Homo sapiens: one gene and its partners. The protein of the gene in region 4 purifies or fractionates together with the protein of the main gene of each other region. This does not show direct contact. Each region holds a gene or a part of one and is shown on either strand. Other genes may lie near its edges. The genes, in order: CCT6B, STXBP4, MIPEP and WDTC1.

Region 1 (7,575 bases), on a different chromosome or scaffold from region 4:
TTTTTCAGATATATAATTGGCAAATTTTTCTCCTCTGTGGCTTATTTTATTATTAACAGTGCCTTTCAAAGAGAAGTTCTTAATTTTGATGAAGTCTAATTTATTATTTTTATTCTGTCATGGATTATGCTTTTGGTGTGGTATCTGAAAAATCTTTACCTAACCTAGGGTCATAAAGATTTTCCTCTAAAAGTGTTACAGTCTTATGTTTTACATTTAGGTCTGTGATTCATTTTAAGTTAAATTTTGTATATGGTGCAAGTATGGATACAAGTTCATTTTTTTCATATAAAGGTATCAGATTGTTTTAGTCTTATTTGCTGAAAAGACTTTACTTTCACCACCGAATTGCCTTTTCTCGTGTATAAAAAATCAGTTTTTCATATTTGTGTGGTTCTATTTCTGTGCTCTTTTTTCTGTCCTACTGATGCATTTGTCTATTTTAATGTTAATATCATACTGTCCTGACGACTGTAGCTTTATAATAAATCTTGAAATCAGTATTGTTAACTCTCATTTTTTTTTTAAGTTATTTTGGTCATTCTAAGTCTTTGGCATTTCCATATGACTTCCATATGAATTTTAGAATCAGCTTGTCAATTTCTACCAAAAAGACTGCTGCTGGGATTTTGATCAGAACTTTTTTTTTTAGAAAGGATCTTACTCTGTCACTCAGGCTGGAGTGCAGTGGTGTGATCATGGCTCACTGCAGACTTGACCTGCTGAGCTCAAGTGACTCTCCCACCTTAGCTTCCCAAGTAGCTGGAACCACAAGCATGCACTACCATGCCTGGTTAATTTTTTTTTATTTTCTGTAGAGACAACGTCTCATTATGTTGTTACCCAGGCTGGTCTCAAACTCCTGGGCTCAAGCGATCCTCCCGCCTTGGCCTCCCAAAGTGCGTGGATTACAGGTGTGAGCCATTACACCCTGCTTGATTGGAATTTTATTAAATCTGTAGACCAATTTGGAGATAGTTGATATTTTAATAATGAGCCTTCTAACTCATGAATATCATCTTATCTATTTGAGTCTTCTTGAATTTATCTCAGCAATATTTCATAGATCTTAGTATATGAGCCTCACATACTTTTTTCCATATTTATCTCTATATATTTTATGTATTTTGTTGCTATTGTATATGCTATTTTTAAAATTTCCATTTCTGATTGTTAGTTGCTAATATATAGAAATATATTTTATTTTTGTACATTGATCTTGAATTCTGCAACCTTGCTAAATCACAATTAGCTTTCTTATAGGCTTCATTGAATTATCTATATAAGTGATTACATTGTCTGCTATACAGTTATACTTTTTGCTCTCCAATATGGATATTTTAAAATTTTCTCCCTTATTTCATGGGCCAGAACCTCCAGTATAATGTTGACTAGAAATAATGAGAATGGACATCCTTTCCTCATCGCTGATCTTAGGGGGAAAGCATTCAATCTTTCTCCATTATGTATGATGTTAGCTATAGGTTTTTATCAGGTTGAGGAAGTTCTCCCTTCTGCACCTAGTTTGCTGACAGTTTTTAATCAAGAATAAATGCCAGGCTGGTCGTGGTGGCTCACACCTGTAATTCCAGCATTTTGGGAGGCTGACGTGCATGGGTCACCTGAGGTCAGGAGTTCAAGACCAGCTTGGCCAACATGGTGAAACTGTCTCTACTAAAAATAAAAAAATTAGCTGGGCATGGTGGCAGGCACCTGCAATCTCAGCTTCTCGTGAGGCTGAGGCAGGAGAATTGCTTGAACCTGGGAGGTGGAGGTTGTAGTGAGCCGAGATCGTGCCACTGGACTTTAGCCTGGGCGACAAGAGTAAAACTTCTTGTTGTTGTTGTTTTTTGTCAAAACACACACACACACACACACACACGAGAATAAATGCCAAATGCTTCTTGTGCATCTATTGAGATGATCATATGATTTTTTTTTTTTTCTTTTGAGATGAAGTCTCACTTCGTTGCCCAGGCTGGAGTGCCATGGCGCAATCCTGGCTCACTGCAACCTCTGCTTCCCAGGTTCAAGCGAATCTCCTACATCAGCCTCCTGAGTAGGTGGGATTACAGGCATGCACCACCATGCCAGGGTAATTTTGGTATGTTTCAGTAGAGATGGAGTTTCACCATGTTGGCCTGGCTGGTCTCGAACTCCTGACCTCAGGTGATCTGCTTGCCTTGGCCTCCCAAAGGTCTGGGATTACAAGCCTGAGCCACTGCACCCAGCCCTCGTTTAGTTTTCTCGTACAGTAAATTACATTGATTGATTCAAATGTCAAACCTTACATTCTTGGGATAAACCATACTTAGTTATAATGCATTTTACTTTTTAAAAAATTAATGGATTACATTTTTTTAAAATTATTTTTTAAATTGTGATAAATATACATAACATAAAATTTACAGTTTAACAATTTTTAAGTGTACAGTTCAGTGTTAGTAAGTGCATTCACAATGTTGTCTAACCATTATCACCACCCATCTCCAGAACTTTTTTTCCTTGCAAAACTGAAACTCTGAACCCATTAAACAATATCTCTCCATTCCCTACCCACCTCCCCAGCCCTGGGTAACCACCATTCTACTTTCTGTCTCTATGAGTTTACTCTATGTATCTCATATAATTGGAATCATACAGTTTTTGTCCTTTGTCTGGCTTATTTCACTTTGCATAGTGTCATCAAGGCTCATTCATGTTGTAGCATGTGCCAGAATTTCCTTCCTTTTTACCATTGAATAATATTCTATTGTATGTATATACCACATTTTATTTGTCTATTATTGGAAACGTGTTGCATTTACCTTTTGGCTATTGTGAATAATGGTACTATGTGTATTCTCCTTTTTATGTATTATTTGATTTAATTGGCTAAAATTTTGTTAAGAATTTTTACATATGTATTCATAAGGGGTATTGGTCTGTGTATATTTTTTCTTGTAATGCTTTTATCTTTTTTGGTGTTAGAACAATGCTGTACTCATAGAGTGAATTGGAAAGTTTTTCTTCTTGTTCAAATTTCTGAAAGTGTAAAGTTGTTGTGGAGAATTGGTATTATTTGTATTATTTCTTTCTTAAATGTTGGTAGACTGTCAATAAAGCCATCTGAGCCTGGAGTTTTCTTTGTGGGAAAGCTTTTAATGACACATTCAATTTTTTTAATAGACGTAGGGCTATAAAGGTTTTGTTTTTTTTGAGTGAGCTTTAGTGGTTTGTAGTCTTTCAAGAATTTGTCCACTTCATCTAAGTTAGGATCATCAACTACTATCTATGAGCTAAATCTGATTTGCTGCCTGTTTTGGTAAATAAAGTTTTGTTGGAATGTGGCCATACTCATTTGTCTATATATTGTCTGTGGCTATTTTTGTGTTACAGTGGCAGAGTTGAATAGTTGGAAAAGAAATGGTATGGCCTGAAAAATATTAACTGGCCTTTTGCAGAAAGTTTACTAACTTCTGATCAACAGTTTCAACTTTATTGTCATAAAGTCGATCATAATATTCATTTGTTATTCTTTTTAATATCTGTAGAATCTGTAGTGATATAAATTTTCTCATTTCTGACATTTGTCATTTGACTAATTTCCACTTTCATCCTAATTATTTCCTTTCTTTTGCTTATATTAGGTTTCATTTGTGCTTCCTTTTTTAGTTTTTTTTTTTTTTTTTTCTTTTTGAAACAGAGTCTCGATCTGTCACCTAGGCTGGAGTGCAGTGGCATGGTCACGGCTCACTGCAGCCTTGACTTCCCAGGCTCAGGCAGTCCTCCCACCTTAGCCTCCTAAGTAGCTGGGATTACAGGTGTGTGCCACCAAACCTGGCTAATTGTTGTGTTTTTTGTAGAGATGGGGTCTCACTGTGTTGCCCAGGCTGGTCTTGAATTTCCGGGCTCAAGTGATCTACCTGCCTTGGCCTCCCAAAGTGCTGGGATTATAGGAGCGAGCCACCAGACCCTGTCCTTTTCTAGTTTCTTAAGGTGGAAGCTGGGGTCATTAGTTTGAGAACTTTCTTCGTTCCTAATATAGGTGTTTCGTGATATAAATTTCTCTTTAAGTACTGCTTTAGGGATGCTAAAATTTTGATATGTTGTGTTTTCACAGAGAATGGGATCAGGGAAGTTTTCAAAGGTTCTAGTAATCTCTTTCTTAAGCTGGGTGGTAGGTACATGGATACATTTGTTTATTTGTGCATTTATTCTTTATATCATACATATAAATATTCTTTTGAGTATATTCTGTATTTAACAAGGAACTTTTAAAAAATGTGAATGGGAGGTAATGATGTAATCATCTGGTGGGTAAACAACTCTTTGAGCGGTTATGTTGTGAAGTGAAGCAGTGAAAGGGGGTAGTAATTTTAAAATGATGTGAGATAAAAGGGGAGATTGTTTTCGTATTGTTTTGTTTTAAAGCAAGTTTTCTGATTTAAATAAGAGTCATAAACTTTATGAAACCATACAAGTAGCAGATATAAAAGTGATATCCTGATGTGAAATTTGATGTGTTTAACCAAAACTCTTGCTTTAGAATAATACCACTTAAATTTTTTCTTAGATAGCAGTTTGAGTTCTGCTGCAGTACAAAAAACAAATACTTCATTGAGTTCCAAGAATTCCCTATCAAAAACTAGACAAATGATCTTGGTCTAAAGAATTTTCATGTCAGATATTGTAATCAGTTACCTGTCAATATAAATTATAAATACCTCTTAAAAGTAGTCATAAGGCCGGGTGTGGTGGCTCACACCTGTAATCCCAGCATTTTGGGAGACGGAGGTGGGTGGATCACTTGAAGTCAGGAGTTCAAGACCAGCCTGGCCAACGTGGTGAAACCCCATCTCTATTAAAAATACAAAAATTAGCTGGGTGTGGTGGTGCACGCCTGTAATTCCAGCTACTTAGAAGGCTGAGGTAGGAGGATCACTTGAACCTGGAAGGCAGAGGTTGGAGTGAGTCAAGATCATGCCACTACAGTACAGCCTGGGTGATGGAGTAAAACTCCATCTCAGAAAAAAAAAGTAGTTATAAAAGAGTAAGATGAAGGTAAAAATAAATTATTCTTGTTTACCAGAGGGTAAGGAGCAAAATAAGCTGTTTGCAGCCAGTTATCTGTACTATGCCTATTTATTTAATGACATATAACTTCAGGATGTTTCATAAGATAACTGAGTAATTACTAAGCTGTGCAATTTATTTGGTTTCTGTAGATAATAGAACATACTTAAATAGTGAATTGCTTTTCTGTCTCTCTCTCTCTTTTGGTCTTTATGGCATGTCTTGCCAATCATATTTTTTCTCTCCAATAGGTTGTATGGTTCCTGGAGCTGGTGCAATTGAAGTGGCAATGGCTGAAGCTCTTGTTACATATAAGAACAGTATAAAAGGAAGAGCTCGTCTTGGAGTCCAAGCTTTTGCTGATGCCTTACTCATTATTCCCAAGGTACAACTACCCTTTCGGCCAAATAACAACTGCTTAGACATAAAGGTGTTTAATTACAAATTGCCCATATTATCTGATAGTTAATGGAGTAGACAGGTATTTATGTGCATTTCCTTACACAGTTTTCTCTTAGATATTTTACAACTAAAGCAGGGAAACTTTTGCGATAACAGCCCAGGATCCTTGCACGATCTCATGAAATAGCCAACTTACCCCCTTGCTTCTTTCTCTGAGTTCCAAAAATTAAAGCAGCTCCAAAAATTTCCTTCAGAAATGACTCATGATTAACTAATCATAATGAAAAAGTTTAGAATTTAAAATTTAGTTAGATTTTGTGGTACATCTTTGTTTTGTTAGTGGTATCCAAATGTAATCAATTTAAATTGTGGAGAGGGAGGGCTTGAGGCTCTTTAGCACTCCTAGATACAACCTTACATTTGTCATCATCATTATAATTCCTAGAAAAAGAGAAAACAGAATTTTTCCATGTGGCAACCTAAGGACAGAAAGCGACCATTCCTTTGTCTTTGCCTTAATTGGTTTCAAACCACCTTAGAAATATAGTAAAACTACTTCAAAGATGCTATTACCATGAATTAAAACATTATTAACAATGTTAGCAAAATCTCTTTGCTAATTTTTATTAAAATTTTTCATAATTTGTGAAATCTTTGTGAATTAGATTTGCTATTTTTTCTTTCCCCAGAGCAGCAAAGTCAGTATGATCCTGCTGCTGACAGAAATTGGTAACCCCAGTACACATTACATTGGTGGTACCTTTTTCCTCATCAGCTGGTGATTTGGGGCCACTTGGAAGTGAGCCTGGTTTGGAGTGCAGGTATCTCCAACCCTGTTACCACAGGTCGTGACTCTCCTCATGAAGATGAGGGGCACAAAGGTGCTGCAAATATTCTGGTTTCCTTAGCAAGTGCCTATGAAGAACTGGAGGGCATGTGGCTAGCGGCACTAGAGGAAACAAGAATATCATTCTACTTCCTTCCATACTAAAAACAAAACAAAACAAAACAAACCTTTTGCAAGGAGGGAAATTAATGTAGTAGGGTAAAAATGGGGGAACTCTGATGTCCTCAGAATTTAGTGTGACGTGCATAGGGGAAATGTTTAAGTAAATATAAAAACTACTAGATAGATGAAATAATAATTTGATTTAGATTAAAAGTGGAATTCTTCAAAAGGAGATGATTGCCATGTTATGGATGTGTTTTTACAAGAGTAAAGAGTATTTTTATATTTGATATATGTGAAGGTATTATGCATATATATATAATATATATTATTATTTTTATTCCTAAAGGTTCTTGCTCAGAATGCTGGTTATGACCCACAGGAAACATTAGTAAAAGTTCAGGCTGAGCATGTCGAGTCAAAACAACTTGTGGGCGTAGATTTGAATACAGGTAAGAAAGTGAAGGAAAATTAGCTGCTTAATAAAGAGGTTATTCTTTAGTTACCCAGATCTTATGGTAAAGGAGTAGAGGTTTGGGTAACTTTAATATTTAAATTTTGGATGCCTTTAGTTTATTTTTGAGCTTCTTAAAAAATGTTCATTCATTTAAGAAATAGTTATTGAGTGCTTGTTTTCCTCTTGGGCTTCACACAGAACAAAACAGACAAAAATATCTGCCCCTGGGAGCTTATGTTGTAGTGGGAGAAGGTAGGCAGTAAATAATAACTTTAATAAATAAACTCCTTCAGCATTTTAGAAAAAGTAATGAATTATATGGAAAAAAGAGTGCTATAATAATGATCATGAATGCTAGTACAGGAGGGTGGAGAGAGAATGACAGCTTAAAGGGTTGGTCAGGGTAGGCATCATCTAGATGTCTGTTGAAAAAAAGTGGAAGGAAGTGAGGAAATTAGCCATGTAGGCAACTGGGGTTAAGTGTTCTAGGGAAAGAGAACAGCCAGTGGAAAAGCCAGTGTCTGATGTTTCTGAGGAAGGAGGTGAGAGAGGTGACAGAAGGTCAGATCATGCAGGGGCATTTGGACCAGTCTCAGGACTTTGGCTTTTACTTTAGAGGAGCAGGGAGCAATTTTGAGCAGAGGTGTGACATGGCCTAATTAATTAATTTATGAGACAGTCTCGTTCTATCACCCATGCTGTGGAGTGCAGT
Region 2 (7,552 bases), on a different chromosome or scaffold from region 4:
CTAATGTAACAGAATTTATACTTTAACTTTTAAGTTACATGATAGTAAAAGTCAATTTGGAACAATGGAAAATGCCATGTTTTATTAGAATCATAGTGTTAAAATTAGTCCTCTGACAGTTTAAGTGATGAAAGAAAGGAATTTACATTAATAAAGTAATCTTTTAATGACTGGTTAGTCACTTACATATATTTCTGTTTGCTGAGGTCTAAAGTTCCACTGGAGACTTGCATGCACATCTGCATTAAAGCTAATTTTAATGATTCGATCTTTAACAGGCACCATGTTTTCAATCTTGTCTGAGGCATGACCTGCAACTGCTGATCCTCCAAGTCCAGTAGTCTAGAAAAAGATACCAAATATGTTAAACAATACTTTTAGGTGTTGATGATCTATTTATTTGATAAAAGTTTAAAAACAATGTAGTATTTATAATCCATTTGGAGCCAAGTTTACATATGGTAACTGACCATTGCTGTAACTGTGTCAAGAATCTGACTACTTTTGGGATGTCATGAGCCTGTATTTGTTAAAGTCATTCCTATTTTTCAGCAATCCCTTGGTTACCTGGCATGGTCAAAAATGAGTCTGGGAAAAGCAGGTTCACTAGATAAGTCAACTATTATCACTGATAGTCGAACTCACAATTTCCAGCTTAGCCATTTATAAAAAACACATTTCCCTTTATTGCTAGTATTTCATTAATAGAAATAAAATTTACCCATGACCTTGTAATTCCACTGAAAATACTTAACTCAATTTTTCCATATTCCTGTCTGGTCCTTTTCCATATCACAGCTTTTATAATCCAAATAAGATTGTAGCTTCACTTTTATTAACATTCTGCTTTTCTAAGGTATCACAGGTATTTTCCCACGTTGGTTAATGGTTTTGAATCTTTTCTGTACTTCTCTGTATAGTAGAGCTTTTATATAAATCACTAATCAGAGCACCTAATCCCTATGGCCACAGAAATAATCATAGGGCATCAAGAGTATTTATGTCTGACATTTCTTTTATTCATGACAGTTATTTCCTTGACATCACTTTTAAAAAAAGCCCTTACCCAGCACTTTGGGAAGCCACGGGGGGCGGATCATGAGGTCAGGAGATGGAGACCATCCTGGCTAACACAGTGAACCCCCGTCTCTATTAAAAATAGAAAAAAATTAGCCGGGTGTGGTGACACGCGCCTGTAGTCCCAGGTCTACTCGGGAGGCTGAGGCAGAAGAATTGCTTGAACCCGGGAGGCGGAGGTTGCAGTGAGCCGAGATCACACCACTGCACTCCAGCCTGGGCAACAGAGCAAGACTCCATCTCAAAAGAAAAAAAAAAACGCCCTTACTTCCAAGGTCATCTTTCTTCTGATACTTGAGGTTGCCAGAATTCTGATTTCTGGATAATTTGCCTGTTACTATGCTAGGAAGAAAAAACAAAAAACAAATTTGAGGCTAGGGGAAGACTCCCAGCAAGATACAGTGTTTTAGCATTCTCTGTTTGTTACGCAAGTCAACTAACTTCATTTGACTGCCATGCAACATTACTGAATTACATTATATCCCTAAAAGATGCATCAGAGGGCAAGCCTTTATCCTTGTTTATCCTTCTGCCTGAGTGCTGTGTTTAAGATGTAACTTCTTTTACTAAAAAATTTAAGTCACTTAAATAAAAATACTTTTAAGTGTCCTCCCTCAATAAAGATTCCAATATAGTCTTTGAATATGGGTTCAAATTTCTAAGTTCAATGCCTAAAGTAAAATAGACAAAAAGACTAGAAAACAGCACTAAAAAGATGTCCTGGTCTCTATTCTAGTTGTGCTACTAGCTCTAAGAACCTGATAGATTACAAATTACATTTGGCTTCCTGATCTATGATTGCATGTGGGCACATTTCACACGCAATATTATCAGTTATTTCAGTTTGGGGCAGGGTTTCTCAATCTTAGAACTATGGACATTTTGGGCTGAATAATTTTTTGTTGTTTGGGGGTGAGGCAGTGCTTTGTTGGTTATTTAGTAGCATTCCTAGCCTCTACCTATTAGATGCCAGTAGCACCCTATACCCCCACCTCCATGTTGTGACAACCAAAAATGTCTTCACACATCGCTAAATGTTCCCTGAGGGGCAAAAATCTCCTGGCGGTCTGAGAAGGATCTAGATTTGCTGATTTGGATTCAGTTCTGCTTATGATTTAACCAACTGGTAGTTTTAGAATTCATGCTTGGGCTTGGTCTCTGATGAAAAGTAATTCACATTCTATACTCATCCTCAAAATCAACTATTGCACATTCCCACATAAATGCTGGCATTAGGAGACTATGCCAGAAAAGAAAAGTCCTTTTGTCTTCTGCTTCATCATCTAAAAGAAAGGTAAATTGATTTCCACGGGCATGGTGGCTCACGCCTGTAATCCCAGCACTTTGGGAGGCCAAGGCAGGAGGGTCACTTGAGCCCAGGAGTTGAGACCAGCCTGAGCAACATAGGGAGACCTCGTCTCTACAAATTTAAATAAATAAACGTGCGCGCGCGCGCACACACACACACACACACACACACACACACGGAAAGAGTGAACTCCAGCTAAGAATACCAGTCATGGTGTTAAAAAAACAATTCCCAAACTTTCCTGCACGCTGGAATCACCTAAAACATACTTGACAATTACTGATGCCTGGTTCCCACTGTGGCCTTGTGATAAAATGGGTAATGTGTGTGGATTTTTAGAAGCTGTCCAGGTGATTCCCAATGTTGCTGTACAATGAATTTTGGGAGCCACTATCTTAAACACTTACTGAATCACTTGTGGCATGATTTTTAAACCGAAATTCCTGTCCCTACCCTAGACTTCCTAACCAGAATCTCTGGGGTAGGGGATCCCTGGAACGTGTATTTAACGTTAAGCTCCATAGGTGATCCTAATGGCCAGCCAAAGCTGCAAATTATTAGCTAAGAACAAAGGAGAAATCTCTAAAATACGTGAAACTTGTCTTTGCCTGTGGTTCTCAAAACTTGCCCTCAAAATCAACTACAGGACTTAACTAAAATATAGAGTGCTGGTCCCACTCCCCTTCTTCTCCCCGCCCCACCCCCCCACCCCGTGTTTCTGACTCAGTCCTGGAGTCGGGCCCTAGAATTTGCACTTTTAACAGGTTCCCGGGTGATGCTGATGCTGCCGGTCCTGGGCGCCACACTCCCAGAACCGTTGCAATGTACTTAACAGTTTCCAGGTTAAGTACATTACAGTTATATATTAACAGGGGTGGGGCGAGAGAGCCTCAAAGGCCTAATTCATGCCTCTTTGTACGGAGGAACTGCTAATCCCAGTTTAAGCCCAAGAAACACGAGTAGTCCAATTTCCAGAGTTACCCTTGGCACATAAACCACATGTGGTTTGCAGAGTGAATGTATGAATAATACATTTTAAAAGCGTGTGTGCGCAGGAGGGTAAGGCAGACTGCTAGATACCCGGTTAGAGGCTGCGGACCTTTTTTTTTTTTTTTGGCGAGGTGCAGTTCATAGATCAGGGGTTTCACTCTGCAGCATGGTATAAGCACAATCACTAAGAACTGGATGCTACTTGCAGTTTTGTCACCAATTTCTTTGGTGACTTTGGGTGTTAAGTGACTGTTTTGAACCTCTCTCCTCTTAGGTAGATAATATCGGAAACCTCTTCCACCTACGACCCGCAGAGCGAGGGCTTGTCCCGGGATTTGTCTTGCACCCCCACCTCTCGCGTCTGCGCCACCCTGCGGGCGGCGCCGGCCCCTACCTGGCAATAGAGCCGATAAAGGGGTACGGCAGCGTAGGACGCCCCCAGCATGCCCACGGCGACAGCGGCCACGTAAGTGAGGGTCGTCTTGTTCTGCCGCCGCCGCTCCTCCTCCTGCGCGCGTGTGAAAGGGTTCGAGCTCTTAGGCCGCCGCGGCGGCTGCAATGCTGGATGCCGGGCTCGAAGGCTGCAGCGCTTCCATGTCCCAAGCCACCTCAGTCCTCTCTCGGCACCTCCTGTCCCACTCCACTCTGGCCTAAGAAACGGCTCTACCCTCTCTGCAGCCCTGGTTGGAGACCCAGGGTGGATCCAGCGCCAGCCACAGAAAGGAACGCACCTCCATCCAGGACGCCAGAGCCCTCCCATAACCCTCTGAACTAACACCCACCCGCCTCTCAGGGACGAGAGGTCAAATCTCGCGAGGCGTGCTCCGTCTCGCGAGATCTGGGTTGAGCCTGCCGCTGCCTTGGCTACCAGGCTCCTCAGGTGGCAGCGCTTGCAGTCGGGCTACGGAGGCCGGGTTGCCAGATTACGGGTAAGTTTGCGTTTTGCTTTGTGACTGTTACTCCCACTTCGCTTCTCGCCAGAACGTCTCTTAACATTTAGGAAAATGCGTTTCGCCCGTCCGCGTGCAAGCTTGCCATCACTTGGGGTTGCGCCTGTGATCTTTATTTAAACTCCACCAGCCTTTGTCTCGACCCGGCAGCCCCGGCGACGCTCTCCCGCGGTCTTTTCTCCTGGGGTCCCTTGGCCGCTGGCTCCTGTGCTCACTGCCCTGGACTTAGTTCAAGTATCACCTCTCTCAGGAAGCCTTGCTGTGTTAACCGCAGCCCTCATGGGCACCCACGACACCTGCATTTTCTCAGCCCGTGGGCAGTCGGCTTCCCCTGCTCTGATGCCCCTTACAACTTGCCCAGTGGAAAGCACCACAGCTGGAGCAGGAGGGAGGCTGTCACGCTGAAGTTTGTTCTGGAGAGAGTGACCAGGATAGGAGGGCCATTTAAGGAGAGACTGAAAGAAACGAACCCCGTGGGAGGATGTAATAGCTTTCTTCAGTTGTCCCACAGGACGAACTCGAGGGGGGCAGACAGCATAGCGGATTTTACTGTGTTAGAAGGAAGCATCTTTCTAGAAACTATAAAATAGCAGTTAAGAGCTCAGGTTCTGAGGTTAGGGGGTTCTGGATTTTTACCCGGGTCCTCACCATGGCCCTGTGCCCTTAGGTCAGTTACTTGTCCTCTAAGACCTGGTGTCCTTACTTGTAAAATGGAAATCAGAACAGTAAATGAATAATATTCATATAACGTCTTTCATGATGACTGAGGCATAGTAAGAATGTAGTTAAAAGTTAGGCTGTATTTCTACTTGCTACGTGGCCATTTCTAATGGCCAGAGCAGGTATAATTATCCCCACTATGTGGATGAGGAACTTGGAGGCCTGAGAAATTTTAACTAGTCATTCGACATTTTATTTATTTATTGCCCTCTCAACTGTGGGCCTGACACCAATCGACCTGCTGGCACTATAGCACAGAACAAGTCGGGAGATCACTTCAGTGATGGAGTGTCCTTTCTGCTGAGGGACTCAGAAAATAATCAAGTAACAGTTACCGAAATAAGGGAATTTCAGATAACAATCAGTGCAGTGAAGACAATGTAATAACATAGTATGATTGACAGTCATGAGAAGCGGTAGTAAAGTAAGGACGTTTTGAAGAGGTGACATTTGAGTTTAGATCTGAACGATGATAAGGAGCTACCTACTCAATAACAATTCCAGGCCAAGCAAAGGCCCAGGGGAAGGAAAGAGATAGAATGATTGAAGAACAGAAAGAAGGCCACTGTGTTCCCAACATAGCAGAGTGGAAAGTGGTAGGAAATGGGGTCAGAACAGGTAACAAAGGCCTGGTAATACCAGCCTTTTAAGCCATGTCCAAGGGTTTGGATTTTATTCTAAAAGTAATAGGAAGCTATTGGAATGTTTGACACATACAAGTGATGTGATCTGACTCACATTTTTGAAAAGATATTGATTACTTTGTGGAGAATGGATTAAAGGTAGGGGGAGGAATGGAAGTAGAACAATTAGGAAGCAATTGCAGTAGTCCACATGAGTGATGATGGTCACCTTGAGTGAGTAATTGATTAACTTGTGGTCACAGGGCCAGAAAATTGCAGAACCAATAAAATATAAATACCTTCTGACTTCTTTCTATACTCTGGCATACTGTCTCAAAAATTTCAGGTCTCCATGATTCTACAAATTTATTCATATTGTGTGATGACAGTGTTTGAAAATCTTTTTCATCTGCATGCACCTTGGTTCTTGTACCAGATTCTCAGCTCTTCTAGGATGAGATTTCTCAAAGTTTAATTTTCTTACAGCATAGACTGAAATCCTTGATACCAACAGTACATTTCCACTCACCATTCTGTTTCTCCAGGCACCCCTTCTTTGTAGCTCCAGGTAGCAGTATAAATATATGTCAGTATACAGTCTTTGTCTTGGACTCCAGTATTTCATTTTTTGTATAATAATTGCAAAATGAAACTCTTATGTACAGTGATATTGATAGCAATGAAGTGGTGTTGGTCTTTGTAGCTTTCTACTTTAATAAAAGAAAATATGCATTGTATCTGATCTTAGTATGATAATGTGAAATGACAGTTCATGTTTATGAAATACTTCTGAATGACAACTAAATATTTTGGTTTTTTACTTATATTTTGAATGAAATGTGTAGAACATAATTTAGTTCAATGTCCAATTAACAAACATATTAAACAATTTAAAATATTTCTGCAACATAATAGTACTCAAATTTCTTGTATACCCTTCACCAAGATTAGAGAATGATAAAGATTCTTCAGTCTTTATCTGCATACTTACTTGTTTATTTCCTATTACAAGAACACTTTCTCCTTCCAAACCACAGAGCAGGCATCAAAATCAGTAAGTTAATATTTATCCAGTATTACCATATGTAGTCAGCTTGGACTACCAATAGCAAAATACCACAGACTGGTTGCTTAAACAACAGAAATACTTGTTTCTCAAAGTGCTGAAGGCTGGAAAGTCAAAGATCAATGTATCAACTGATTCACTTCCTGGTGAGGGGTCTCCCTGGCTTGTGACATCTACCATCTTGCTGTGGCCTTACATAGATTGGAGTAAATGAGCTCTTATGTCTCTTATAAGGACACCAATCCCATGAGATCAGGTTCCCACCCTTATGACCTCATTCAACCATAATTACTTCCTAATCCAAATACAGCTACATTGAGGGGTTAGGGCTTCAACATATGGATTTTGGGGGATATATATTAAATTCTTTACATCATGTTATTCATGGACTCTACATAAATTACCCCATTTGTCCCAATCATTTCCATTTTAGATCTAGGATTTAATCCAGGATTACTCGTTGATTTTAGTTGTCATGCCTCTTCAGTCTTCTTCAATCTGGAATAGTTGCCAGTCTTTTCTTGTCTTTTTCTTTCCTTTTTTATTTTTATTTTTATTTTTATTTTTGAGAGACAAGATCTTGCTGGGTTGCTCAGGCTGGTTTCAAACTCCTGGCCTTAGGTGGTCTTGGTCTCCCATAGTGCTGGGATTACAGGCATGAGCCACCGCACCCAGCCTTATCTTTCATGACTTTGACATTTTTGAGGAATACAGGCTGGTTACGTGATTAAATGTGCCTCAATATAGGTCTGTCTGATGTTTCCTCATGTTTGTGACCCCTTGACAGGAATATCTTAGAGGAGATGCTGTGCTTCAA
Region 3 (7,575 bases), on a different chromosome or scaffold from region 4:
ACAGTAAATATTTTTAGGTTATAGTTTAGTAAAATAAGCTGTGTTACTAGCTTTACTGTGTTTCTTTTCCATAAAAATAAATGTTCATTATAATCTTAAGAAGGGTAGAATTTTAATATGTAAAGTTTCTTTTTATTCTCCTTTATTTTTGTGTTTTTATTGTCTGGAAACAAAAAAATGAATTGCTTTTTATAACCAATTATAGTTTAAACTTTCTTGCCTTGGTAGTAGGTTCTATGGGAGGTTTCTGCTCTGGTAAGCTGTGATTCTCTATGGCTGCCTGCCTTTCTTTCCAGTTTTGGGGGCAGCAGTTTGCTCTGTGGCCTTGATTCTCTGCTGAATCTAAGAAGATTCTTGATTTTCAGCTTGTTCAGCTTCCTGCTTGTTAGGATGGAGTGGTGACTTTCAACCTCCTCATGTGCAGGAGTGGAAACCTCAAGCCTGGACCACTTCCTTTTATAGTTTATTTTCTCCCCTCTTTCCATGCACTCCTTTCTCTCAGTTCTTCAGTACCTCTGAACTGTTCTGTGTCTTCCTTCCCACCCCTCCCTCTGGTAGTTCAGGGGTCTGCCCTTTACCTTCTCTGCCCGCATCGCCCTTCCCTAATGGCCCTGTCTCCCTCTATGGCTCTAATATCTGTACAGTGAAGTCTCCTTGTTCTCCTTAGCTTTGGGTCCTGAGTGTCTGGTATCTCATGGGCACTTCACAGTCGGTTCCTCCAAAATGGAGTTTATTTTCTGTGAGCCCTCCATCCTCCTCCCATCATTGCACCTCACCCTCCTCTCTTCTCCCACAAACACACCCAGATTCCCCTCTTCCTTTTTTGTGTTCATTGTGCCGGCTGATTCAGTGACTCTACCATCCACTTATTTGTCCAAGCCAGAAACCTGAGTGTTATTCTAGATTGTTCTGTCTTTCTCATCACCCTCCAAATCCAATCACTCACACAGTCCTGAGACGTTTGCATCTCAAAGGAAAAACACATTCATCCCTGACCCCACTGCCCTCTGTCAGAGTTCACCCTCTGAAGCCTGGAAGTCTGTCCTCCTGTCAGCCCTCCCTGCCTCCTGCATTCCACCCTCCATGCTGTCCACTGTGCAGCATTCCAGAAAACATCAGATGCTCCCCTATGGCCTACAGAAGCTGTCTCCCAAATGGCATCTGTAAGCAATTCATTGAGAGTGTAGTCATAAAATATTAGAAATTCTATGTATATTTATTTTTCTTTATCTCAACTTATAAAAATGTCTGCTTTTCTTTTTGCAATGTGATAAAACAATACCACATGCATATACTTTATGAGTGTACTAATAGAAGGTTGAATACTCAAAAGTTATTTTAGTGTGCATTGGTGAGGAAGCTTAGAGGCCATGGCCTATGGTGCATGGTCCCAGTTCCTCAGCTTAGTGGACCAGGCCCTCTGTTTTCTGGCCCCTGCCTGCCTTTTCCAGACTCCGCTCCCATTCTTTCTACATTTATCCCTGCATTGGTAACTGCTTCATCTTTAACCACATCCTTTCTAGAAGTTACCAGGCTATTTTATGCCATCATACTTTAGTTATACTGTCGCTTCTGCCTAGAATTCCTATTATGATTCCCATTTTCCATTCCTCATCCCAGCCCTGCCTTGCAAAGTCTGATTCCTTTTTTTTTTTTTTTTTTTTTTGAGATGGAGAGTCTTGCTCTGTCGCCCAGGCTGGAGTGCAGTGGCACAATCGTGGCTCACTCAACCTCCGCCTCCTGGGTTCAAGCAATTCTCTGCCTCAGCCTCCCGAGTAGCTGGGATTACAGGCACCCGCCACCACACCCGGCTAATTTTTGTACTTTTAGTAGAGACGGGGTTTCACCATGTTGGCCAAACTGGTCTTGAACTCCTGACCTCATGATCCACCCACCTCAGCCTCCCAAAGTGCTGGGATTATAGGCGTGAGCCACAGCACCCGGCCGATTCTTTCTTGATTCCTATCCGAGAAGCTTTCCCTGGTGCTACTCTGCACTCCACAAGTAAAGTCATCATGCTCTCCTTTGCCCTCCCATTTTGCAGTGCTCATTCGTTCATGCTTCAGCACTGTCTGTTGAGCGCCAGCCGTGTGCCCACTGCACCAGGCCCAGGACACAGTGTAGTTGGTTCACTTCTCTGCCTCTTTCAGTGCCAGCTGCTTAGACACAAAGGCTCTTCATTCTTCTCTTCCAGCACCCCGCAGGTTTGCTGACAGCATGCTTGAGTGAACGAACCAGGGAGCGAGGGCACTGGATCATGAACGTCTCTTTCAACACTAGGATTCTGTTTAAAGAAAAATCAGTCAGAAATTAAGGTGTAAATTTGTGGATGTCCATAGCCAAAGTCTCATTTGTTGTGCAATTTATGTTCACTTACTAAACTCATTCATTTATTAGTAACTATGTTTTTATATTTTTATATATAAATTTGTTGTGGGGACTCATTTTATGGAACGAAGTGTTGTGCAGTTCTAGAATCACAAATAAAGCCAATTGAAAAAAAAATGTGTATTTTGGTAATCCTAAAAAGTAGACATATAATGAGAACCTACAATATTCTAGAGCCATTATTTTTGGCTATGGCTATATATTTTGGCTTGACTTAATGATTCAAATGTAAACATTCAAATCACGTATTTTGGATTTGCTTTGGTTTATATTGGAATATATAGAACAGAAAAAGTTATTTTTGGGTGAAGAATAATTCACCTTACTAGTTACGTTGTCTTTAATTTAAGATATCTAACTATAAAACAGATAAGATCTGATTATTTATATTGCAGGCATTTTTTTCATAAATGAATATTTTACTGGATGAGAACTTTAAATTCACTTAATGTGCCTCAGGATTTTTATTCATTTAATATTTATGTATATAGGTCACAAGTTTCTAGAATATAATTCATAAGGTAAGAGTTACCATTATAACTGAAACTGATCATATTTTGCATGTAAGTATGTATAAGGAATGTATACAGTGAGCAGTTGAGACTGCTTAATTGGGTTAGTGAAAGAGTAAATAACAGGGAAGGGACAAAGGTTAGGGAATGATATATCTACCTTAATTACTGACTTATAACTAACACTAGTAATAATCAGACTGTCATTCTGAAGAAAACTGTCTGAAAACCCCTCAAATGATATAAATACACTTTTATGTTTTGAATCCTTCTTTAGCTCCAGTGATCTTAAGTATTAAATGAAAAGTTAATTGAATTTACCTTCAGAAATTGAAATAAACAAAGATGCTGTTGAACCTCTCTTCCTTCTCTTAGGTATAATATTGAGCCCAGCCTATATTGCCCGTTTTTCTCTCTTGGAGCATGCATGGAAGGCCTGAATATTTTGCTTAACAGACTGTTGGGGATTTCATTATATGCAGAGCAGCCTGCAAAAGGAGAGGTGTGGAGCGAAGATGTCCGAAAACTGGTGAGCTCCTCCTGCTCAGCCTGCAGTTGCAGGCATTTACCTTTCGGTTGGGCAGTTGAGTCAACAGCAGTTTCAGGTTTACATCAACTTTGCCCTGACTGAGTGTGTCCCCTGCCTTATTTCTGCTTCACAAAAAAAATCCAAATTGCACTTCTGATTTAAGACACTGTATAAAGGATCCAAACATAAAACAGCAGAGTTTTCTAAAAAAGTTTTTTGGAACTTGATAGAAGGTTGAATATATATGCACCTTCATATATCCACAAATTCTATTTATAGGAAAATTGTCCTTTACTTTGTATATACCTTCATAGCTGTGTGTCCGTTTTGGTTAATTCCCAAATCCATTGGATAAGTGACCTTTTTTCTCTCCAACCCCCATCCCATGTTGTAGGGGCTTATATTTGCATCAGATATTAATTTACGTCCGTGTTCTGATTTATTTAACTTCTTTGATAATAACTTCAAACCTAGCAATCATCTTTCTCCTGTGAAGGCCCACTTTATATGAGGCATGAATATTTTAAATTTTTCCTCATAGGATTTGAGGCTTTGTTGACCTGTGTGTGTCACTAAGGCTTTGTATTGTTTTGTTGTTTGATTTTTGCTAGCATGCTTACCACACTGCTTTCTTCACTATATTTTAAGAAATGTAAACAGTCTCATTGTCTCTCGGCCACGTCTTGTGAGTGGAGAGTAGGTGTGGTGGTGGGATTGAAAGGAGAGTCAGGGTGGGAGGACGTTCATCACTGCATTGATTTACTTCACTATCTGTATTACAAACTTCCAAAAAAGATAGAGATTGATAAAATGCTGAGATATAATAAAAAGAAAAATTTATAAGAGGAGACTGAGAGGACAAAATGCGGGTGATGAAGGGTTTCCCCAGAACTGCAGAATGTGCACTCCACCGGGGTCCAGCACTGTTGTCAGTTGCATTCACTTCTGTATCCTCAGTGTCTTGAAGAGTTCCTGGCACCAAGTAGGTGCTTAACAGATGTTTGATGAACAATAAATATATACTTGCAGGTAGTTTTAAAGCACAAAATCGGGGTTCTCTTTGATGGAATCATTAAATTCTGAAAGAACAAAGAAGGCAAGATGGAGAGTAGTGATTGAGTCTCTCCTATAAGCTATGTCTCTTGGAGAGGGGATAGATAGTAATATTGCTGATTTTTAACTCAAGCTGGGAGCTGCATTGTGGTGTTTTCAAATTCAAGGGTTATAATTTGCTTGGGCGTATATCACGACATTCCAGGATTTGAAGGAAAAATAATTTGCTCCTAAAATTGTCCAGCCAGCACTTCTTCCCAGCTCTTGTGGGTGGTTAGTAAAGGTATTGTAGAGGATAGGCAGTCAGGACAAAAGGCCCTCATGAGGAGGATTTCCTGTCCTGGACACAGAATTCCAAAACCAAAATCATTCAAGAGATGGAGCAGAAGAGGATGCGGGGAAAAGAGAATCTATCTCGAGATAATGTGGGGTGTAGAATGTAATTAAAATGTCTATATGTGTGGCTATGGATGTTTAATATACAGATTCTTGTGTTAGGGATTTTAGAGAATCAGATGGCCTCATTTACCACCAAATTTAAATTTTTTTTTCTAGGCTGTTGTTCATGAATCTGAAGGATTGTTGGGGTACATTTACTGTGATTTTTTTCAGCGAGCAGACAAACCACATCAGGTGATCCTTTCTTTATAAACTGGTCTCTCTAGAACCGATCGGCATTTCATTTGTATTGATGTGAACTTTGTATCATTTTTTAAATTCCATGACATTTAAAAGTTACTAATGATGGTTACCAAATATATACATTTGAAATTAAGATAGAATTTTAAAATTAAAAAGTTTATGGAAATAATTACATCAGTCTATATTTGTCACTTTTATCTGGGTCATGGTATTAATTATAGTAACAATGACAACTGACATTTTATGAATCCTTATTTGTGCCAAACAGTGCACTGAGCCCGTTATACACATCAGCCTTTTAATGTTCGCCTCACCCTTTTGACTAGTTACTCACATTATGAGGAAACTGAAGCCATAGAGGTTAAGCTACTTGGCCAGAAGTGCTAGGACTTGAAGGCATACATCCTGAGCAGATCCCCAACTTTTAACTCTTTTCCATACTCGACAATGAACCTATTCTAAAACTGCGGAAGATACTCCATGTGGAAACCTTACCAACCACCAAGTAGCTCCTTATGTGGAAGACTTGAGGCAGCTCATCTCCTTTTCTTTAGCATTGGCCGACTTTGACAGCCAGTCAGCTTTAGCAGTTTCATGTAGCTTGATGGGAAATGTCAAGAGTTTAGGTTATAAGTTATAACAGAAATAATGTACCTTATGTTTGAATAGTGATTCACAATTTCCAAAGCACAGATTTTAACAGATGTGAGCTTATGAATTCTGGACAGCCACTGTGGGATTTGACAAGGAAGCATTTTAGAGATGAGGCTTGCAGAAGCAAATTATTTTCCGAGATGATTTGTCTAGTAGGTGTGAAAGGTAGGAACAGGGTGCAGGTCACCAGACTCTGAGGCCAGTGTTCTTCCTCTTTGCTTAAATGGGTGGGTGGTGGAGACTCAACTTTAGTGATTAGGAGCCCTGGCTCCTAATAGTCAGCCTGGGTTCAGATCCAAGGTGTGGCAGTTCTAGCTAGGTGTCCTTGGACATGTTATTTAATAATCCTAAGACTAGTTTTAGTTTTATCATCTGAAAAGTGAGATACCTGCTACATAGGGTTGTTGTGGAGAATAAGTGATACAGTGTATGTGAGTCTCAGTGTAGTGCCTGTTTCAGAGTAAGTTATTCTGGCTCCGGATCCCTTGCTTTACACTAGTTTAGATCCCATCTCGTTCAAGTGATAAAAGTCAAGAGAGGCTGGGCGCGGTGGCTCATGCCTGTAATCCCAGAACTTTAGGAGGCTGAGGCTGGCAGATCACTTCAGTCCAGGAGTTCAAGACCAGCCCTGGCAACATAGTAAGACTCCATCTGTACAAAAAAAAATCTAAAAATTTAGCTGGGTGTGGTGGAGCACACCTGTAGTCCCAGCCAATCAGTAGGCCAAAGCAGGAGGATGGCTTGAGCCCAGGAGGTCCAGGCTGCAGTGAACTGCGATCACAACACTGCACTCCAGCCTGGGCAACAGAGCAAGACCCTATCTTAAAAAAAGAAAAAAAAATAGCCAAGAGACATGGAAAGTACCTACTAGTTCATTATCTGACACATAGTAGGGACTCAGAATAAATGTTAGTGTCCCTTCGTAAGTTCTTTGCTGACTTTGTTTCCAGCTTCTGGCACAGCATCATTTCAATGCATGTTTTGGGACCAAAGTAATGAGTTAATCCATAGAAACTGAATGTGTTCTTGATGTTTTAAAAAATTAAAATTTTAGCAGAATAAAAAATGTCAAGAAAAGGTGTATATATGTAAATAGATAGAATAAGAATATAATTAAGTTAAAGTTTGCACTCACACATTTTTGGTGAAATTTTATATTCATTAAGACTGTTTTACTCTTCACATTACCAAATACTTTCTTTTCCTTTTATGTTTTCTGATTCTTAAAGGATTGCCATTTCACTATCCGTGGAGGCAGACTAAAGGAAGATGGAGACTATCAACTCCCAGTTGTAGTTCTTATGCTGAATCTTCCCCGTTCCTCAAGGAGTTCTCCAACTTTGCTAACTCCTAGCATGATGGAAAATCTTTTCCATGAAATGGGACATGCCATGCATTCAATGCTAGGACGTACTCGTTACCAACACGTCACTGGTGAGCCATGAGGAGGGCTTTTATTTACTACAGTCCTTTACAAACATACATTTTCTTTGAATTGGGAAAGGGGCTTTTTATTTGGAAAATGTGATCATTTTACCGTGTCCTGTGGTCTTTATCTCAGATTGCCTCATCCTGCCCTCCCCATGGTTGTGCAGCCTGATCTTCCATGCTTTTTTCCATGCTTGCTAACAGCTTTCACCAGGGAATAATCTCAGTTGTCTTTCAAGTTTGTCCCTTTTTACATTTTACAGTGTTTTATATTGAATTTAAGTTTGTGGCTATGTGTGTGTGAATAAAAACGTATCTCCTTAATACCTCCCACAGAGTTAATAAGTAAGTGAATGAATGGTCTCTCTT
Region 4 (7,458 bases):
CTTAACCATCTTCTTCTTTCTTCTCCTTTTTTTTTTTTTTCCAGACAGGGTCTCATTCTGTGTACCAGGCTGGAGTGCAACGGTGCCATCTTGGTTCACTGCAACCTCTGCTTCCCAGGTTTAAGCGATCCTCCTAACTCAGTCTCCCAAGTAGCTAGGACTACAGGCACGCATCACCACAACTGGCTAATTTTTTTTTTTTTTTTTTTTGTATTTTTAATAGAGACAGTGTTTGGCCATGTTGGCCAGGCTGGTCTCAAACTCCTGACCTTAAGTGATCCTCCCACCTCAGCCTTCCAAAGTGATAGAATTACAGCCATGAGCCACACCCGGCCCAGTCACCATGCCTGCCCTAATTTTTTTTTTTTTTTTTTGACGAAGTCTTGCTCTGTTGCCCAGGTTGGAGTGCAGTGGCGTGATCTTGGCTCACCACAACCTCTGCCTCCAGGGTTCAAGCTATTCTCCTGCCTCACCCTCCCAAATAGCTGGGATTACAGGCACGCACCACCATGCCCAGCTGACTTTTGTATTTTTAGTAGAGACGGGGTTTCACTATGTTGGCCAGTCTGGTCTCGAACTCCTGATCTCGTGATCTGCCTGCTTCGGCCTCCCAGAGTGCTGGGATTACAGGCGTGAGCCACCGCGCCTGGCCAATGTTTATATTTTTTGTAGAGACAGGATTTTGCCGTATTGCCCACGCTGGTCTGGAACCAAAACGTTGGGATTACAGGCGTGAGCCTCCATGCCTGGCCGAGTCTCTGTTTCTTCTATGTAAAATGGGAGTAAGAATCATACCTAACTCACAACGTGGTTGGGAGAAGCAAATGAGTTAGTGTGTGTTAATGTATATGGGTGTGTGTGCGTGCGTGTACACATATGTATGTATAGATTTATGTATAGGTCTCTGCCTATATGGAGAGAGAGGAAGTGAGAAAGAGAGAAACTCAAGCAAGTGTAAGAGTACGAGTGGTATCTATTAGAAAATAATAAATAGTAACTGCAGTTGTTAATAGTCTTCTTCCTGGTGGGGCGAGGTGGCTCATGCCTCTAATCCCAGCACTTTGAGAGGCCAAGGCAGGTGGATCACCTGCGATCAGGAGTTTGAGACCAGCCTGACCAATTATGGTGAAACCCTATCTCTACTAAAAATACAAAAATTAGCCGGGCGTCGTGGCATGTGCCTGTAGTCCCAGCTACTCGGGAGGCTGAGACAGGAGAATCGCTTGAACCCAGGAGGCAGAGGTTGCAGTGAGCCGAGATTGCACCACTATACTCCAGCCTGGGCGACAGAGCAAGACTCCGTCTCAAAAGAAATAGTCTTCTTCCTGTCATCAGTCTCTACCAACGAAAGTTCATTCTGACAACAAATATTTACTGAGTTTCTGCTATGTGCCATAGACTGTGCTAGGAGTCACAGAAACATCACCCACTCTTCTCTATCAGTATATCTAAGATCCTCTGTGACCTTGCCAGCATTAAACAAGACTTTAAAATGGGGGTTCTCTGGCCGGGCGCGGTGGCTCATGTCTGTAGTGACAGCACTTTGGGAGGCAGAGGCGGGTGGATCACGAGGTCAGGAGATCGAGACTATCCTGGCTAGTACGGTGAAACCCCGTCTGTACTAAATGAAATGACAAACTGGTGGCGGGCGCCTGTAGTCCCAGCTACTCGGGAGGCTTAGGCAGGAGAATGGTGTGAACCCGGGAGGCAGAGCTTGCAGTGAGCAGAGATTGCCCCACTGCACTCCAGCCTGGGCGACAGAGCAAGACTCTGTCTCAAAAAAAGAAGAAAAAAGTGGGGGGGGGGGTGGTCTCTGCCAAAAACACAGGATGCTAAAATGATTTAAAAATGAGGGTTCTGGATTTGAATAGTGTAGGCTTTAATCCCAACTGTACCACTTCCTAGCTATGTGATTGTGGGAGTCTGTCTTTCTTTCTTTTCTTTTTTCTTTTTTTGAGATGGAGTCTCTCTCTGTTGCTCAGGCTGGAGTGCAGTGGCACGACCTCGGCTCACTGCAACCTTCGCCTCTAGGATTCAAGTGATTCTCCTGCCTCAGCCTCCTGAGTAGCTGGGATTACAGGCACGCGCCACCACGCCCGGCTAATTTTTGTATTTTTAGTAGAGACGGGGTTTCACCATGCTGGCCAGGCTGGTCTTGAACTCCCGACCTCAGGCGATCCACCCGCCCTTGGCCTCCCAAAGTGCTGGTATTACAGGCGTGAGCCACCGCGCCCGGCCGGGAGTGTTTCTTTTTCTTTTACTTTTTTTTTTTTTTTTTTTTTTGAGACGGAGTCTCGCTCTGTCGCCCAGGCTGGAGTGCAGTGACGCGATCTCGGCTCACTGCAAGCTGCGCCTCCCGGGTTCACGCCATTCTCCTGCCTCAGCCTCCCGAGTAGCTGGTTCTACAGGCGCCCACCATCACGCCCGGCTAATTTTTTTGTATTTTTAGTAGAGATGGGGTTTCACCGTGTTAGCCAGGTGGTCTCTATCTCCTGATCTCGTGATCCGCCCGCCTCTGCCTCCCAAAGTGCTGGGATTACAGGCGTGAGCCACCGCGCCCAGCCCGGGAGTATTTCTTAATTCACTAGTAGCACTTATCTCCCATGGTAAGTATTCAATAAATGTTAGATATTATTCAGTTTAATTAACCCAATGACCCTAACCAAGGTTGCAGCCTGAACCTGGGGAGCTGCAGATAGATGATCTCAAAGCTTTCTTCTAGTCCCAAAGTCTATGATTTTTTATATTCAGTAGAACAGCTGTGGTGGAGAGTTCAGGGGGAATGACCCACAATATTTTTAGGAGAAAGGCATAAAAGGCTTTGTGAGCGGTTTCACAAGGATAGGTTCTTACTCCTCTAAATGGGGAGAAATCTCCCTTGCGGAGAAATCACCAGCAATTAGAATACTACCTTTGTCTCTGGGAGTATTCAGGTATTCACAGACAAATTCGTACTCATGATGTGAGCAGAATTGGAAAAAAAAAAAAAAAAAAAAAAAAAAAACAAGCGACACATGGAGTGATAAACACTATAAATGCCAAATACATATATTCAGTCCTTACTGAGAGCGGGTGCTGTCTGGTTTTCACAGGAAAGACAGGCAGTGTTAAAAGGCTCAGACTCTGGTGTCAGGCAGATCTGGGTCTAATTCCCAATTTGCCAACTTATCAGGACCCCGGGGGCAAGTTGCTTTTAGCCTTTCTGCTTCAGCTTTCCTTTTCTGCAAAACACAGACAGCAATAGTACCTAGCTAAGAGACTGTACCCAATCCAGTGCGAATAAAAGTGAATTATTGTTAGTATCTGACAAATGGCACCCTATGGGTGACAAGTTTCCTTTGTCAGAAGGTGACACGTCTTCCCTTTCTGACTTGAGGTTTCACGGGTGGGGCCTGGTCTCTGCCTTAAGAAGATAGGCTTAGTGCCACCCTTGTCACCTTGGGAACTTCCTTAATAAAGAGGAGGGTCTCTCCTCCATCAGACCCGGGACTCCACAAGGCTGGAACTGCGTCTCTTCCTCAGAGGTGGGAGCAGCAGTGACTCCGCTAGGGTCAGATGGACCTAGTCGCTCCCATCACCCCGAGGGCACCCAGAGTGTGTGTGGCTGACTCCTCTCCAGGCTACTCAGCGTAGGCCCGATTCTCTTTCATTCTCTTCCTTAAGGCCCAGGAGACGTCAGTGAGGACTGTGCCACTTCAGCAGCCCCCCAGAGCAGGAAGGAGTGGGCTGAGGAGCCCCCCGGGGCCCTAGCCTGAGAGGTCCCAGAATTCGGGGGCTGAGAGGAAGTCTTAGGAGCTCTTAAGGGGCTGTGAGGGGACCTGGGGTTCAGTGGGCGAGCGTGTGGGCGGGTGTCCCAGAAGCGGTGTGAGGAGCGTTTTACCCGGTGGTGGGGTGGGAGGTGCGTCCGGGTAACTAATGGCAACCGGGCGGGGTGAGCCCGCTCTGCAGGAACTCCTCGACGGCGAAAAACTACGACTCCCAGGGTGCCCCAGGGCTTAGCCCAGCTTTCCCGCCCGCCCACTGGCTGCCGGTCCCGCAAGCGGCGAAGCCCATTGGCCACGGCGGTGCGGGGCTCCCCCACTAGCAGGTTAGTGGGCGCCGCCGGCAGCAGACGTTGACCGGGCGCGGGGGGGTAAGTGGGGGGGCCCGGCTAGCCATTCTGGAAGCGGCCGGGCGCAGTCTTCGTAGCGTACCCGCCGGCTGCGAGGCGCAGGGCGGAGGCGGAGACTGCGTGGCGCAGGCGCGTTGCTGGGCTTCTCCTGGGTCCCCAGACAGCTGGAGGAGATAAACAGAGGAGGAGGAGGGAGGGGAGTGCGTGTGTGAGAGCGCGCGAGGGAGTGTGAGTGTGTGTGAGCGCGGGTGTGAGGCGGTGCGCAGGGGCGGGCGGAGGCGCTGTCCGGCCCCGGCCAGGCGCCGGGCGGGGAGCATGGGAAGGGGCTAGAACTGCTCGAGCCCCCCAGCCCCCTCCCCGGGATCCGCGCCCCCCTTCCCGGGAGAGGGGCCGCCCCCCCCGGACGGACATGGGCTCCTGAAGTTGCGCCGCTGCCGGTCGGGGGAAGAGACCTGACAGGTACGGGTCACCGCCGCCCCCTGCCCTCCGCGGGCGCCGAGGCGGGGACCGGCTCCCGCAGCCCCGGTGAACGGGCCGCCCGCTCTGGGCCGGCTCCAGCCCTGCCGGCCTGGGGGCCTGAGCCTACCCGCCTCGGGGCCCCGGGTGTCCCGAGAGGGGCCAGGCCTCGCCGGGGCGGAGGGCAGAGTGGTCCGGGGGCGGGGTGGGGGCGGAGGGTTTGGTCGGGACGCGGGGGGAGGCTGTGGGAGTCCGGGGAGGCTCTGCGGAGGGAGAGGTGGAAGTCATTCCATCATGGGACTTTTTTGCGGAGTTTTTGTTTGACATCTGATCTGGCGCCGGAGTCAGGAAGAAGGGGCAGGTGTAAGTGCTGGGAGGGCAACGCCGACCTGACCTGCCCTCTTAGCTTCTCGCTCTCTCTCTTTCTGTTTTTCTCTCTCTCTTTCTGTGTGTGTGTGTGTGTGTGTGTGTGTGTGTGTGTGTGTGTGTCCACAGCAGATGCCTTCAGTGGCCCATCCTGGCACCAAACAACTCTGCCAAGGTGTTTCCACCAGGCGACTGTAGCACCCCGTATACAAAGGGCCTCTGCTTGGGAACGGGCTATTCAGTACCCACTTCAAAGGGTAAATAGGAAGTGAGGAGATAGAAGAGAGACTGCGAACCAGCAGGATCCACTTCTTGGACTGAAAGCCGCAGTGGGACGCCCCTTTGCCAGATTGGTTGACTTTGCTTGGTGGCTTGGGCTCTCTCTCCTCTGCGGGTGTACTCCCAGGGTTTCTAGAGGAGAGGTACAGGGGCCTGTAACTAATGTCTTAATAGCCGAATTTGACTGTTTTCCCCAGAGTTCTTTTCTTCTGTGACTTTCTTTAACCTCCTGAAGTACTGGTAGAGCAACGTTATAGTTTTTCTCTCAAGTTGGTGATTTTAGGAGCCTGGTAGGGTGGCTGAAGCTTCCCCATTCATTCCAAGGATGGGGTAGATGATCTGGGTAAAGTGGCAGTGAAGTCTTCCCTTTCTAACAAAGCCTGAAACCGTTTTGAGAAGAAACTATTTTGAGGGCAGCTTCTGACTCAAAGACGTTACGAAATCCCCACCTAGGACACCGGTATGCCCAGTGGTCCCTACTAAGCTTTTCTGTGTCTTTTAGAGTCGTTGAGTGGCCAGCTTCTGCTCACTGTACTGAAGGAACTACTTAATGCTATTTCTGTCTTGAGTTCTGGCTTATTCTTCCTTGTGATTCTTATATCTTTAGCGGGATTGAATTGAATTTTTGCTGTTGAGTGTAATAGCCAGATCCTCTGTAACAGACCAGGGAGTAACTAGTTGGGCTCCTTTGGGCCAAGTCTGAGACTTACTGAGGTTTCTTCATTGTAGGTTGTTGTATTTCGTTGGCAGGTGGGAAATGACCTTTTCCGTCATAGTTTGTGATCATGCTGCTTTAAGGCTGGAGTCCTGCTCTCCTTTCCTTTTTTGACCTATATGGGAGCACTTCTGTTCGAGTCTTATCTCAATTTGAAGGAACAGTGCTTTTGGATCAACTCTGCCGAATAATTGAGCAGTAGCCCATATTTCTGCCTGGGACACCTTCATTGAGGGTCACGAGGGAAAGAGAGAACACGTGTAAATATTATGATGATGATGTTAACAACTATTTACCAGTTTCATACAATTGACAGTTTTTTTTAGCCGGGAGGAGTTCAGTATTGACTCATTGGGCATCTTATGTAGGGTGTTTTTGCACACCTAGACTTTAGGATCTGGAAAGACAACTGAAAATCTTGAAGCCCACTGCCAAACATTTGTGGATCTTGGGCCAACTGCTAAGGAAGATCTAGACTATGACTTGGTCTTTAATTATTTTTATTTTTTTCTCCTTTATGTATGTATGTATTTATTTATTTATTTTTTGAGATGGAGTCTTGCTCTGTTGCCCAGGCTGAAGTGCAGTGGCGCGATCTCAGCTCACTGCAACCTCAGCCTCCTGGGTTCAAGCAATTCTCTGCTTCAGCCTCCCAAGTAGCTGGGATTGCAGGTGCCTGCCACCATGCCCAGCTAATTTTTGTATTTTTAGTAGAGATGGGGTTTCACCATCTTGGCCAGGCTGGTCTTGAACTCCTGACCTCGTGATCCACCGACCTCGGCCTCCCAGAGTGCTGGGATTACAGGTGTGAGCCACCGCACCTGGCCTCTCCTTTTATTTTTATTTTTTTGAGATGGGGTCTCACTCTGTTGCCTGGGCTGGTCTCAAACTCCTGAGCTCAAGGGATTCTCGTACCTCTGCCTTCCTAGTAGCTGGGACTACAGACACGGCCTCCGTGACCACTCTCTTCTCTCTTTTTAAAAATTAAGGAATGTTGCTGACATGTGCAGTTCTGAGTCTCAGAGAGGAAGTCAAACAGAACATGTAATCTGGTGATACTTGTGTTTTCTTTGGGTCACTGGTTTAGTTATCTATTCTGTTTCCTTTCTTCTTTCCACCTCACCTTTCCAGATGCTCCACTGTATCTTTAGGCTGCCATTGCAGATTGCTGGGCCCACAAAACCCTTAGGTTGTACTTTCTTAGCTGTCATCTCTTGAAAAGCCAAAGTTCTGGCAGTTGCTATTAGAAACCAGTTCCTGGCTGAGCGCGGTGGCTCACGCCTGTAATCCCAGCACTTTGGGAGGCTGAGGTGGGCAGATCACGAGGTCAGGAGATTGAGACCATCCTGGCTAACACGGTGAAACCCCATCTCTACTAAAAATACAAAAAAAATTAGCCGGGCATGGTGGCACGCGCCTGTAGTCCCAGCTACTCAGGAGGGATTTTCCTACTAAGGCAGGAAAATCGCTTGAACCCAGGAGGTGGAGGTTGCGGTGAGCTGTGATCGTGCCATTGCACTCCAGCCTGGGC

Evidence for each region.
Region 1: the proteins of WDTC1 (region 4) and CCT6B purify together in Homo sapiens (co-immunoprecipitation; 3 studies listed by BioGRID and IntAct, with this or other methods). This does not show direct contact.
Region 2: the proteins of WDTC1 (region 4) and STXBP4 purify together in Homo sapiens (co-immunoprecipitation; 3 studies listed by BioGRID and IntAct, with this or other methods). This does not show direct contact.
Region 3: the proteins of WDTC1 (region 4) and MIPEP purify together in Homo sapiens (co-immunoprecipitation; 3 studies listed by BioGRID and IntAct, with this or other methods). This does not show direct contact.

What each region holds. Positions count from the first base shown.
Region 1 is NC_000017.11:34,930,232-34,937,806, reverse strand, and holds part of CCT6B (T-complex protein 1 subunit zeta-2), read left to right. Parts: intron 1-5,306; coding exon 5,307-5,440; intron 5,441-6,755; coding exon 6,756-6,858; intron 6,859-7,575. UniProt on the Homo sapiens protein: Component of the chaperonin-containing T-complex (TRiC), a molecular chaperone complex that assists the folding of proteins upon ATP hydrolysis.
Region 2 is NC_000017.11:54,964,511-54,972,062, forward strand, and holds the start of STXBP4 (syntaxin-binding protein 4), read left to right. Parts: upstream 1-4,254; 5' UTR 4,255-4,305; intron 4,306-7,552. Other genes in the region: COX11 (cytochrome c oxidase assembly protein COX11, mitochondrial), read right to left, coding at 187-342, 3,771-4,136. UniProt on the Homo sapiens protein: Plays a role in the translocation of transport vesicles from the cytoplasm to the plasma membrane. Inhibits the translocation of SLC2A4 from intracellular vesicles to the plasma membrane by STX4A binding and preventing the interaction between STX4A and VAMP2.
Region 3 is NC_000013.11:23,837,189-23,844,763, reverse strand, and holds part of MIPEP (mitochondrial intermediate peptidase), read left to right. Parts: intron 1-3,275; coding exon 3,276-3,429; intron 3,430-5,037; coding exon 5,038-5,115; intron 5,116-7,007; coding exon 7,008-7,212; intron 7,213-7,575. UniProt on the Homo sapiens protein: Cleaves proteins, imported into the mitochondrion, to their mature size.
Region 4 is NC_000001.11:27,230,382-27,237,839, forward strand, and holds the start of WDTC1 (WD and tetratricopeptide repeats protein 1), read left to right. Parts: upstream 1-4,250; 5' UTR 4,251-4,570; intron 4,571-4,815; exon of another isoform or gene 4,816-4,930; intron 4,931-7,458. UniProt on the Homo sapiens protein: May function as a substrate receptor for CUL4-DDB1 E3 ubiquitin-protein ligase complex.